Homo sapiens: one gene and its partner. Each later gene encodes a partner of the first gene's protein in a complex. Each region holds a gene or a part of one and is shown on either strand. Other genes may lie near its edges. A codon is read from its position in the direction of its gene.

Region 1 (5,633 bases):
CAGTGTCTCCTGCAATTGATCAAACAGTAGATGGGATCCACACTTTAACTTTTTCTATATGCAGCTCCGTGTTTCACAGACTGCTCCTGCTGGTTTGCTATGAACAAACATTGATCTCTACTTTCTAAAATGTGAAAATACTCTTTATCCACAGTCGCTTCACATTACGGGAGGCAGAAAAACCAGTGTAGGTCTGTTTGTGGGTGGAAAAGGGAGAGAGGCAGCCTTTAGAAGTCCGATGCAGTCCATCACCAGCAGTTCAGTGTCCTAGAACGTGGTCATGGCCGTAGCCATGGCTGGAATGACCCAGGTCTTGGTCTGGGAGCTGGTAGGAGAGGCACTGGAGATGTGTGAGATGTGGGGAGACACGCACCTGCTGCAGCCCAAGCCTTTCACAGGGGACAGCCCAGGGCCCATTACCCCAACATCGAGAAAAAAAAAAAAAACCCCATCTTCCTCCAGATCCCAGCCCAGATAGAAAGGCCTGATTTTAGAGGAGAAAGTACTGCTTCTAGTCTTTCTATGAGAGCACACTTTCTATGCTGGAGCTTCAGTATCTCAGCCCATCCTGGACTTACCCGTGATTTAACATCTTTCTTACATCTTACATTGGTTACACCCAGATGAAGGCAGCAGCCTGTTTGATCATCCCTTTCAATCATATTTGTATCTCAGACCGTGCACAGTGGCTTATTCCTGTTATCCCAGCATTTTGGGTGGCCGACCTGGCAAATCACTTGAACTAGAGTTCCAGACTGCCTCTCTTTAAAAAAAAAAAAAAAAAAAAATTAGCTGGGCGTGGTCACTAGTTCCTGCTGTTTCACCTACTCATTCTGGAGTGTGTGGTAGGAGAATTGCTTGCGCTTCAGAGGTGGAGGTTGCAGTAAGCAGAGATGGCGCCACTGCCCTCACACCTGGCCAACAGAGTGAGACCCTGTCTCAAAATTAGTAACAATCATCACCATCATATTTGGAGCTCTGAGGTCCACGCATGCTCAGGCATTGTTCTGGTGCTTCCTGGTTGAGAGAAGAATGGTGCATTAGCCTCGAGAATCCTGTGAATGGGGAGCTGTTTTTACAAAGAGAAAAGAAACTCTTTTCAGAGACTGTGATGAAATCACACTGAATTCTGAAGTTGCTATGACTTAGGATGTTTTTGCTCCTATATGATTTGTAGGAGATACAACAGAGTCGTCCCTTATAATACTTTTTCCTGAAGGCCCTGGCTTTCTAAAAGCATTGGAATAGTTCCCCTTATAAACATTTATACTTTTCATAACTTTGCCCAGGGAATCAACAGTTTTGAACTTGCAAAAATAAAAATTAAATTAAATACCAGATTTTCCTCTACAATGATTTTTTTCACGTTCTGGCCCAAATTGCTTCATGTCAGAGAGCAATCTTTGAGGATGTTAGAATGGTAACACACTCTAGGAGCCATATGGAAATCTAGACAGAGAAACGCAGACCAAAGAAACCCTGTCTAACTTCTGCATTCATTTCCACACCTTCACCTCCAAAGAACTGGTCCCAAGGTAACCTTTGTTTATGACTGAAATAACATACTGATCTCTGTTTTGTCCTTCTCTAAAATGGAAATGCATATAATAATAATATATTTTATTTTAGATAATATTCCATTTTTACTTTATTTTTCAAATGATTAAGAAATACAGAAATTAAAAACAAAATTTGCTCTCTCTGTAGGATTTGAACATTAAATATTTTGTATAACTGAACCCTATTTGTCATTATATGAACAAGTAATTGATCATATATCTTGAATATAAGATAAACTGTAACAAATGTATAGCAACAATAAAATGGAGTTCCAGTTTTCAGGATGGCCCATAAAAAAAGATTCCATGTCATTACTCTGTCTTAACAATCAGTAAAAAGCTGAAAAAGCAAAAAAATCTATATCTCTTTGACATCTGTCTGAGTGGTGCTGTCATAGGGCAAACCATAGAGAAAATAAAAAAATCCATGCCTTCCTTGCTTCAAAGTATTCTATCAAGCTGTAGGAACAAAAATGGCATAAGAATGGCATCAAAACAGAAATCAAAGCCAATGGAACAGAGCAGAGAGCCCAGAAATCCCTCCAAATGTGTACAGCCAATTACATTTTTACAAACGTGCCAACAACACACAATGACAAAAGGACAGTCTCTTCCATCAGTGGTGATAGGAAACTGGGTATCTACAGGCAGGAAAATGAAATTGGGCCCTAATCTCTTGCCATACACAAGAATCAACCAAAATATAGTCAAAACTTTAAACTATGAGCCTACTAGAAGAAAACAGGGGACATCCTCATTGACATTGGTTAAGCCAATAATTTTTGAAATATGTCCCAAACACATGGGCAGCAAAAGGGAAAATAGACAAATGGATTGCATCCAAATGAAAAAAAAATTCTGCACAGTAAAAGAAATAATTAACACCATGAAGAGACAAAATCATCGTGAGAAAAAATACTTGCAAACACTATATCCAATAAGGCATTAATTAGTTACTGTTCAAAATATACCATGAACTCAAAGGACTCAACAGCAAGAAACAACACAATTTTAAAACTGGGCAAAGGACCTAAATAATAGACATCTCAGGAGAGAAGATATACAAGTGGCCAGCAGGCATGTATATATATATATATGCTCCATGTCACCAATCTTCAGAGAAATGCATATAAAAACTAAAAGAAGGCATCACCTCACACTCTTTAGAATGGCTGCAATCAAAACATCAAAGGACAACACTTGTTGAGGATGTGGAGGAAAGCGAACCCTTGTATTATTCCTGGGAATGTAAATTAGGGAGCCATTCTAGAAAACAGTATGGAACTTCCTCCAAAAACTACATAAATACAGCTACCATATGATCCAGCAATCCCACACTGGGAAGTGTATATGAAAAGGAAATGAAATCAGTCTATTGAAGAGATATCTATACTCCCCTGTTCATTGCAGTGCTATTTACAAGACCTAAGATAGGGAATCCACCTAAATGTCAAAAAGCAGATAACAGGATGAGGAAAATCCGATATACATACACAAGGGAATACTATGCAGCCTTAAAGAAGGAAATCTTGTCCTTTGTGTACACATGGGTGCACTTGGAGAACATCATGCTAAGTGAAATAAGCCAGGCATAAGAATACAAACACTACATGGTCTCCATGATACCTGGAATCTCACAAAGTTAATCTGATAGACGCAAAAATATAAGAAAGATGGTCGTCTGGGGCTGTGGTGGCTGGGGATGGGGAATTTGAGGAGATGTTGGTCAAAACACACAACACGTCAGTTACATGGGGGAACAAGCTCAAGAATTATTGTACAACGTGGTGACTATAGTTAACAATATACTGTTACTGGTACCAAGGTTAAAAAAAAAAAAAAAAGAGCCAGAGAGCCTCAGTGACAGGCACATAGGACCATTTGATCAAAAAGCCACAACTTTGCCTGAAGGCTACCGCAGATTCCCATGAATGTCACTTTGGGGGAGAAAAATGCCCCCAGGAGCATCCCTGTTAGAGGAGTGATCATTTAGGTTTTCCATATTTCCCTCCCCGTTTCACCTCATCCTCAGGGAACCTGAGAGACACCTCATGATCGCACCCTTGGTGTTTTGCAGCAGTCACCGATGTCGGGTAACATACAACTTTATTCAAATGTCTTTTTCATTGTAATGACTTCCATGATGGTCGTGAAATGTAAACTTTCAGAATCTCCTTGGCACCCAGAATTTTTTCTAACTCACACCTACCATCCCTCCCACGATGCACACGGCAGAGGTTCCTCCCTCTCTGGGGTGTGTGCAGAACCCAGGGACTCAAATTGGGTTTTCACAGCGCTGACGAGGTTGAGAGTCTAGTGAAGCAGTGAGTACAATGGAAGGGAGCTGGGTGAGTCTAATGCAATCATCTGAGCTCCTTATAAGAGGCAGGGCTTTACTGAGACCACAGAGATCTCCAGTCAGAAACAGACTGCCTGCGAGGGAGACTCCTGGCTGCTGCTGGGTAGACCAAGGAAACCCAAGACCTTCCGGGAAGACTAAGCAGCCCGGCCTCCGACCCACAGACCTGAGAGCTGGTAAGTGTGGGGTTGGGTTGGCAGGGGTTAAGTGTGTGGGAGAGTCCTGCGCATGGATCTCAACTCACAGGCTCTCTGAATCCTGTCCACAGCACCACTGCCCTTGTTTTCTGACGCCAGTACTGCCTGCAGCAGGCCAGGCTCAGCCTCAGAGAGGAGAGAGCACAAGGCCCCACAACATGGCGCGCACCAAGCAGACCGCCCGCAAAGCCACCGCCTGGCAGGCCCCCAGGAAGCCCCTGGCCACCAAAGCCGCCAGAAAAAGGGCGTCGCCTACAGGAGGGATCAAGAAGCCTCACCGCTACAAGCCTGGCACCCTGGCGCTGCGGGAAATCAGAAAGTACCAGAAGTCCACGCAGCTGCTCCTGCGCAAGCTGCCCTTCCAGCGTCTGGTGCGTGAGATCGCCCAGGCCATCAGCCCGGACCTGCGCTTCCAGAGCGCGGCCATTGGCGCCCTGCAGGAGGCCAGCGAGGCCTACCTGGTGCAACTCTTTGAAGACACCAACCTGTGTGCCATCCATGCCAGGCGCGTCACAATTATGCCCCGAGACATGCAGCTGGCCCGCCGCCTCCGTGGAGAGGGTGCCGGAGAGCCCACGCTCCTGGGAAACCTTGCACTCTAGAGGACTTCTTTTCTGTTTGCTTGTGTTTTCTTTTTTCTCTTCCCCCGTAACTGGTAGTTCTGATGTGAGAAGTTTTGTTCTGTTTTGGTTTCTTTTCCCTCCGGGGGTCCAAAGGTAGCTAAGCATAAGATTGCCAGTGGAAACGCAGGCAGAAATCAGGTGGCAGTTGTGTTTGTGTGTGCTTGTTAGTAAACGTCTCATCTACTTTGAGGCTCCCAAGGTACTAGTGTCAAGTGGAAATGTCTCTGTGAGCGAGTTTCAGTTCAACTCTATAAAATTATAAAGAAATCTTATTTTTTTTTCTTTACTATGTCTGCATACGGGTTCTGTAAACAAAATAAATTTCTTATTAATCTGAGCTAAAAGATGTTTATTGCATTTTATGAAACAATAGATTCCAGGTATACTTGGAGGTTTTATGTATGCAACTCTGTGTTTTCAATGTTCCCTGTCTCCTGTGATGTTTCCGCTAGTTTCCTATGAAAATACATTAAACTTCATTTTCTACAATTTAAATAGATTCTCTATTTACAAGTCAATGCACACTATGAAAGGCAGTGTGGGTAAAATCCAGTGTGGTATATCTGTGTGTTGAAGGGAGTCAGAGGCACCCATTGGGCGTCTGATGCAGTCCATCCCTGGTGGTCTAAATTCCGGAATGTGGTCAATGTCATGGCTGGAATGGTCAAGGCCTTGGACACAAAGGTTGTAGAAGAGGCTCTGGACATGTGTGAGATTTGAAAAAGAGATGCCCCTGAGAAAGCCTGCCTGCACATTCAAGTTTAAGAGCCACATTTTTATCAAGTACCAAAAAATTATGTGATTTCCAGCCCAAGACTAGAAAAGTAATCCTGTTCCTGAGGGAATAAGTACCGGCTCCATCTTCCCATGACAGAAGACTGTGTGCTGAAGCTTC
Region 2 (7,123 bases), on another chromosome or scaffold:
ATAAATAACTGAGTCCACATAATGGTGATACTGGGATCTGAGAGAATTGGTCTTAGGCCTTATGCTGCAAGTACTGCTCATCACTACTAAGAGACCCCCTTTTAATGCGGAGGTGCCATTTTTATAATGCATTCCAGAAAGTAATCAATTGATGCGTGACTAGGAAAATTTAGAGGAGTTTTTAATCACATGACTTCACCTGACGAGATTTCACAACTATAAAACCTCCCTTTTTTCAAAAAATTATTAAGAAAATAAACCAGGCCCCAGTCCAGGGAAGTAGCTTCTCTAGAGCAGGCTTTCTTATAATTACGTGGACTAATTGCCTATTTCCCTGTCTAGTGGGGACTGGATATGCACATTTTGTAGAGATATTGGAAAGCCAGAAGTTGAATATGATTGTGATAATTTGCAACATAGTAAGAAGGGGAAAACTGCGCAGGGGTTAAGCCCCGTGGACCAAAGGGTAAGTGTCAAATAAGTTGATTTGTCACTGGGATTCAGTAGTTGTCTGCCTATATATACACCTTTTTTTTTCCTGTGTAGCATACACAAAACCTGATAACATTTAATTTTTAATCCTGTCATCTGATGGTATATTGATGATTTCTGAAGTCTTTTTTTCCTCTAACCCTGAACTACAGACCCTTCTATCCAGATTCCTCAAACTTAACATGTCCCAACTAAAATCTTAATTTCTAATCCTCTCCCTCCAAGCACAAAACCAAGCAAATAACGACATAAAAAACTGTATTCCTCCCCCAGTATTCCCCTTAATTGAATGATACCACCATTCATTTCTGTTGCTCAGGTTAGAAACCTATTAGAAATGAAATAATAATAACTATAATATGATTTTCTTACCTTACATCATAATTTCTCATCTGGACTATTGTAGTGATCTCTTAACTGCTCTCCCCGCTTCTGCTCTTGACCTTTATAGTTTGTTTTCTGTATTAAACAGTGTTCTTTTTAAAAAAGTAAACAAGTCTATCATTTCCTTGCTTAAAATCCTCTAATAGCTTCTCATCATATTAAAAATGGAAACTCTCTCCTTACTTTACTCAGATTTTTACCAATCTGGCCTGTAGTCTGATTGCCAAAGACAGACTCTTTTGCATTGTCGTGTGGTCATTAGAGTTAAGTTTGGCTCTACTCTGGTGTATATACTGGTAAAAACCCTCATCCACTATCTGTGAAGACAAGATACGTGTTTAGGGTATACAAACTTGTATTAAAAGAAGTTTAGATAAATAGAAGACTGTGAATGTAAAATGCATTTCAGTTTACTCATGATTGGGTAAAAAAATATTTTTGGAGTTAGACTGAGAAGGCCATTTTCATTTTGAACCTGACTGGAATCATTTGAAGAAAGGGGATGATAACTTTCAACATTTGTCTTGCCTGTCTAAGGAATTACCATGAGGAGCAACAGTGATAATTTATTTACTTATTTATTTATTACCAAGTAATTTATAAATTTTTGCACAAAGTGTTAGATGTTGCTTTTGTGACTCCCTTCCATAAATTACCTTAGTTATCTTCCATTCTTACTTAAAGTAGAACAAAAGATAGTCTGAAAACAAAATGAGAAGCAAGGGAATTTTCTTTGGGTGTTTATGTTTAGTTGAGTATCTAGTAAACAGGGGGCTTGTGTTCAGTTTGTTGTAATCAAACTTTGTTGTGATATAGTTCTCATTCTCGAGAATGTTTTATTAGGAGAAAAATATTTCATGTGCTTTCCTTTCCTTGTTTGGGCCAGAAATGTGAACGTCTTCTGCTTTACCTCTATTGCCATGAATTAAGTATTGAATTCCAGGAGCCTGTTCCTGCTTCGGTGAGTTGCCTACCTTAGTAGCTCGGTGGGGAAGTCTCATAATACTTAAGAGTATGGGCTCTGGCGGCCGGGCGCGGTGGCTCACGCCTGTAATCCCAGCACTTTGGGAGGCCGAGGCAGGCGGATCACGAGGTCAGGAAATAGAGACCACGGTGAAACCCCGTGTCTACTAAAAATACAAAAAACTAGCCGGGCACGGTGGCGGGCACCTGTAGTCCCAGCTACTCCGGAGGCTGAGGCAGGAGAATGGCATGAACCCGGGAGGCGGAGCTTGCAGTGAGCCGAGATCGCGCCACTGCACTCCAGCCTGGGCGACAGAGCGAGACTCCGTCTCAAAAAAAAAAAGAAAAAAAAAAAAAAGAGTATGGCCTTAGACTAAGTTGTATTACACCTCAGCCTTCTGGAATAAGCTCTTCAACCTCTCTAAGACTCAAGTTTTCTGACACGATTTTTTACCTCATTGGGTTGTTCTGAGGATTATATAAAATAACCTATGTAAAATATTTAGCATAGTCTATAGTCATTGAGTTTTGTAAGGAATAAAGGCTCTAAAATGCTGCAATAAAAGGAAGATTAGAGGTGTTTGGTGCCTAATAAGTGGGGTAAGAATATTCTACACACATTTTATTGCTAGCCATCAGTTGTTGAATAGTACATTATTACATACCAGGCCTGTTAGAGAATATTAAATGGTAGTTGACTTGTTTACTGGGTAGCCTGAGAAATGAATTTTAAATCACAAAAGGTATAGACAGAAGGAAGATGTTTTGTACAAGCAGTAATCATCTGTTTCTGGAAAATTTGTCTCATCTTTAAGTGCAGGGATTTTAAAGTAGAAAATGACTTTCAAATGTTTTCTTTTTATGGACTATTAAAGTAGCTTCTTGGCCGGGCATGGTGGCTCATGCCTGTAATCCCATCATTTTGGGAGGCCTGGCAGGCAGATCACTTGAGTTCAGGAGTTCAAGACCAGCCTGGCCAACATGGTGAAACCCCCTCTCTACTGAAAATATAAAAATTAGCCGGGCGTGGTAGTGCATGCCTGTAATCCCAACTGCTAGGGAGGCTGAGGCAGGATAATTGCCAGGGGATGGAGGTGGCAATGAGCCACAGTTGGCGCCACTGCACCACTGCACTCCAGCCTGGGCGACAGAGCAAGACTCCATCTCAAAAATCAATTAGTCAATCAGTCAATAAAATAGCTTCTCTAACTTTACTTTTATCCCAAGGGTAGAAATTTTTCGCCAGAGTTGGGGTCAGAATTCCCTAGCGTGAACACTAAATGGTTAATAAAGTTAGTAAATTTTTCTTATGTTCTTAGTCTTACTTCCTCTGTTACTAAGTCAAGACTTCGTGATGTAAATGATATTCCCTGTTATGTTTTCCAAAAGACATCATATTCTAATTGTAACATTAATATATTTTGTAAATTTTTTTCTTTAAAAAAAAAAGAAAAACTCCTAAGGAGTCATAAAATTCTGGTAAGTCAAATGTTGCCTCAAGGCTACTGGTTGGTTACCCTTGCTAATTGCTTTCTTTCCAAATCTTATTATTAAAAGTAGGACTTTGGGGACTTGGACTAACCATGAAGATTGGCACATATGCCACATAAGATTTGGTTTTCATGAAGATGTAAAGTACATACGTCTATACTCAAAATTTGCAAGCAGCTGGCTCTATAATAATTTTTTTCCCTAAAATTAATATGCTATGCATTTTCAAATTAAACAGTTTGGCATTTTTGGAGAATTCTTATTTGCCATTATGTGCTTATTTTAGATACCAAACTACTATAAAATTATAAAGAAACCAATGGATTTATCCACCGTGAAAAAGAAGCTTCAGAAAAAACATTCCCAACACTACCAAATCCCGGATGACTTTGTGGCCGATGTCCGTTTGATCTTCAAGAACTGTGAAAGGTTTAATGAAGTATGTTAACTTCCAACCTATAGAGTCTTGATTTGTTAGTTTTTGTTTGTTTCCTTGTTTTATTTTTCTGCTGACTTTAATTTTATTAAAATTTTTTTTTCTGCTAAAGTCCTGTCAAAAGTAACATCTGATTGTATTAACAGCTCCAGTGAAGAAAATTTATTGTGTATAATTTGGAGTATATACTTAAATATAATAAATTAAGAATATTATCAAATATCCTTTTCTAAATGAGTTGAGGATTGGCATAAGTATGGAAAGTACTGTCAGTAGTTACGTATATTTTGTGGAATATGATTATAAACAGCTTACGTTTTGGGTACTATTAGGAAAGTTATCTGTACCCATGTCCTTGCATTTTATTATTGACAACATGAATGTAGAACCTTAAAATAACAAACTAATCTCTGGTGACCCATCTTGAATAGTAGCCCAGAGTATATAATACTAAGTTTTCTTATTTCAGCAGTGTGACTTTGATTAATTTTGGTTATGTTTTTTGGTTTGGGGAGTTTTTTGTTTTTTGTTTTGTTTTGTTTTGTTTTTTTTTTTTTTTTTGAGGGTAAGTTTGAGTTAGCCATGCCTTGAGAAGAAATGTATTATATACCTGTTTCAGGGAAATTGTTTTTATTAGGGATAAAATCGATTCTATTATTGTTATGGAAGAGTTTCATTGTAGGAGAAGAAAATGGAATTTAATGAGAATCCACAAAATCTTTTAAAAGATTAATACTAAAGTCTCTTTATTGCTGGTGTAATTTGGGTGCCATATGATTATTACTAAAATAAATCACATTGGATCCTGTAACGTATTCCTATAGCTGCCTCTGGAAGCATCCAGATGGCATTTTAAAATCAAAAACAAAACAAAATCCTCATAAGGTGAAAATTCTAAGTCACCTTTATAGCAGTATGGCACAGAGTATATTAGTAAAATCTCACTAGTTTGAAGTTATATTTAGTCCCAAATTCTGTCTTATTTTTCAGTGCAGTTAAATTATTTTCAAATAAATATGCTTTCATGAACTATAGTTGATAAGAAGACCCATGTTTCCTGCCTCAGTAATAAATAGTTTATGATTAACATATTGCTATACAGATAGAATTTTTATTAAGTGGTTTGTTGAAAGTTTGTCAGTTTTTTAAAGCAACGTTTCTTGTATAATATGCTTCACAAATATTTTTCTCTTGGATAGATTGATGTGTTCAGACCAATTCCTATTCAGATTGACCTTGATAATTCAAAATAAGACAATTACTGAGGTTTCACAGTAGCTTTAGTAACAGGGCTTTGTAAAGAAAATGGTTCCATGTTCTGTAGAATTTTAGAAAAGCACTTTATCTGGTTATAGCAATTTGTTCTCCCTAGTATGGCTGACTTTTCGTCGCCAATCCTATGCAGTCTCATAACTTTAGAAAGGATTATAATTTCCCTTTTTTTTTTTTGACTCTGGTATCCTTTTTAGATGATGAAAGTTGTTCAAGTTTATGCAGACACACAAGAGATTAATTTGAAGGTAAGCTTTTCAGACCATGCAAACTTGGTGAAGGAATATGCATTACCAATAGGTGAATATTCCTATCTTTTGCTTGCAGGCTGATTCAGAAGTAGCTCAGGCAGGGAAAGCAGTTGCATTGTACTTTGAAGATAAACTCACAGAGATCTACTCAGACAGGACCTTCGCACCTTTGCCAGAGTTTGAGCAGGAAGAGGATGATGGTGAGGTAACTGAGGACTCTGATGAAGACTTTATACAGCCCCGCAGAAAACGCCTAAAGTCAGATGAGAGACCAGTACATATAAAGTAAAATGACATGGATTTAAATCAATTGTTTAAAAAAAAAAAAACGAAAAAAAAAAAAAAAACACAAAAAACCCAGAAAACTTTTAAGTGTTGCTGGAATATCCTGCCTACAGTGGGCACCTCCTTGAAGAAGCTGATAGCTTTTACACAGTATTAGATTGAAATAATGGACAGAAACACATTCTTGTCAAGAAAGGGGGAGAGAAGTCTGTTTGCAAGTTTCAAAGCAAAAAGCAAAAGTGAAATGATTTGAGGATTTCTGTTCTAATGGAGATGATTCTCTGATTGTTAGAAATGGCAAATATTGATGATTGTGTGCTATTGATTGGTGCAGGATACTTGGTATACGAGTAAATACTTGAGACTCGTGTCACTTGATAAATTTTCTTTTTGGACTAGGTCGCACAGTTATTAAAACAACTTTTAACCCTCCCCCTTCACACACATACATATCAGGTTGTTTTCTAGTTAAAAACCCAAGTAGCTCAGATTCTACTTTAATGTCAGTGCAGATTTGCATTGAATCATGCCATTATGTTTTTTCTCATTTTTATGCTGTTGGGTCTTAGTTTTTAAATTGATATAAAGAACTCAGCAATGGTTTTATTTTCTACTCATACTTAGGGTTTAGGAAACACTACCACTAGTTATCATTTAATCAACTTCAATGGTCTACTGAAACAAAAATGGTAACTTTTCATTAGTGGATTATTTAGAGTTATAGTAGTTGTTTCCAGAAAACACTTCCTCACAATTGTACTTCCCAATCAAATCATGTGATCATACAGTTATTCCCATGAAAGGCAGAATGTTTGTTTCAAAATTAATCTAGTTTTCTGTACATTTAAATTTGAGAAGGTGACAACTGGCTCTTTTCCAGTCTTCCTTCATGTCAGTTTTCTGATAGACCACTATTGGCAAACAGTATCTGTCAACTACCAAATGTGTAAAATTTTCTGTATTTCACTTTGTCTTATTTGTAAATAGTGAACTAAAACTTTTGGCAGATCAGCAACATTTGCTGAGCCTGTTTTTTAAGCTAATGTGTATTCTTACTAATGTTCCTATCAAGAATGGATTTGTAATATATGCTGTCTATTTCTAATGTTCACATTCATATTTTGAGGTTCTATCTTATTTTAATAGAGAACAGACTTCTCAAAAAATCTTCAGAAGCAGCTTATTATTGAAATATCGAAATATTGAAATAAACCCGGTGGGGTTAGATTACTCATCTGTCCACCAAGTGGGACATTTGCATGGACTGGGGGCTTAAAGGACTTAGAAGAGACCTGTAAGTAAATCCTGAAAATGAGCCAATCCCCACTTGAATGGTTACTGGAGTAAACCCACCTTTACCACCCCAATTACAGCACCCGAGGCCGATAAACCAACTTGGCTCTGGTTCATTTTTCTTTTCTTCATTTGTGATGCTCAGATTCAAAATGTGTGTTCTACACTGTTACAGGCTTCTCTTTTGTTTGATTAAAGATTTTAGTCCTACTTTTGTATGGACACATTAGAATATTCAGAGACCAAAATAGAAGAA

Evidence for each region.
Region 2: the proteins of H3Y2 (region 1) and TRIM33 are in contact, whole or in part, in a crystal structure (PDB 7ZDD), measured with the Homo sapiens proteins. Residues at the interface, in NP_001358848.1 of Homo sapiens: Ala2 (codon at 4,277), Arg3 (codon at 4,280), Thr4 (codon at 4,283), Lys5 (codon at 4,286), Gln6 (codon at 4,289), Thr7 (codon at 4,292), Ala8 (codon at 4,295), Arg9 (codon at 4,298); in NP_056990.3 of Homo sapiens: Asp884, Pro885, Asn886, Glu887, Asp888, Trp889, Gln894, Asn895, Gly896, Gly897, Asp898, Leu899, Leu900, Cys901, Glu903, Val908, Phe921, Pro922, Ser923, Gly924 (codon at 344), Trp926 (codon at 350).

What each region holds. Positions count from the first base shown.
Region 1 is NC_000005.10:17,490,409-17,496,041, reverse strand, and holds H3Y2 (histone H3.X), read left to right. Parts: upstream 1-3,965; 5' UTR 3,966-4,273; coding exon 4,274-4,717; 3' UTR 4,718-5,075; downstream 5,076-5,633. UniProt on the Homo sapiens protein: Primate-specific variant histone H3, which constitutes a core component of nucleosomes. Nucleosomes wrap and compact DNA into chromatin, limiting DNA accessibility to the cellular machineries which require DNA as a template.
Region 2 is NC_000001.11:114,396,103-114,403,225, reverse strand, and holds part of TRIM33 (E3 ubiquitin-protein ligase TRIM33), read left to right. Parts: intron 1-342; coding exon 343-466; intron 467-1,762; coding exon 1,763-1,837; intron 1,838-3,616; coding exon 3,617-3,769; intron 3,770-5,235; coding exon 5,236-5,286; intron 5,287-5,365; coding exon 5,366-5,578; 3' UTR 5,579-7,123. UniProt on the Homo sapiens protein: Acts as an E3 ubiquitin-protein ligase. Promotes SMAD4 ubiquitination, nuclear exclusion and degradation via the ubiquitin proteasome pathway. According to PubMed:16751102, does not promote a decrease in the level of endogenous SMAD4.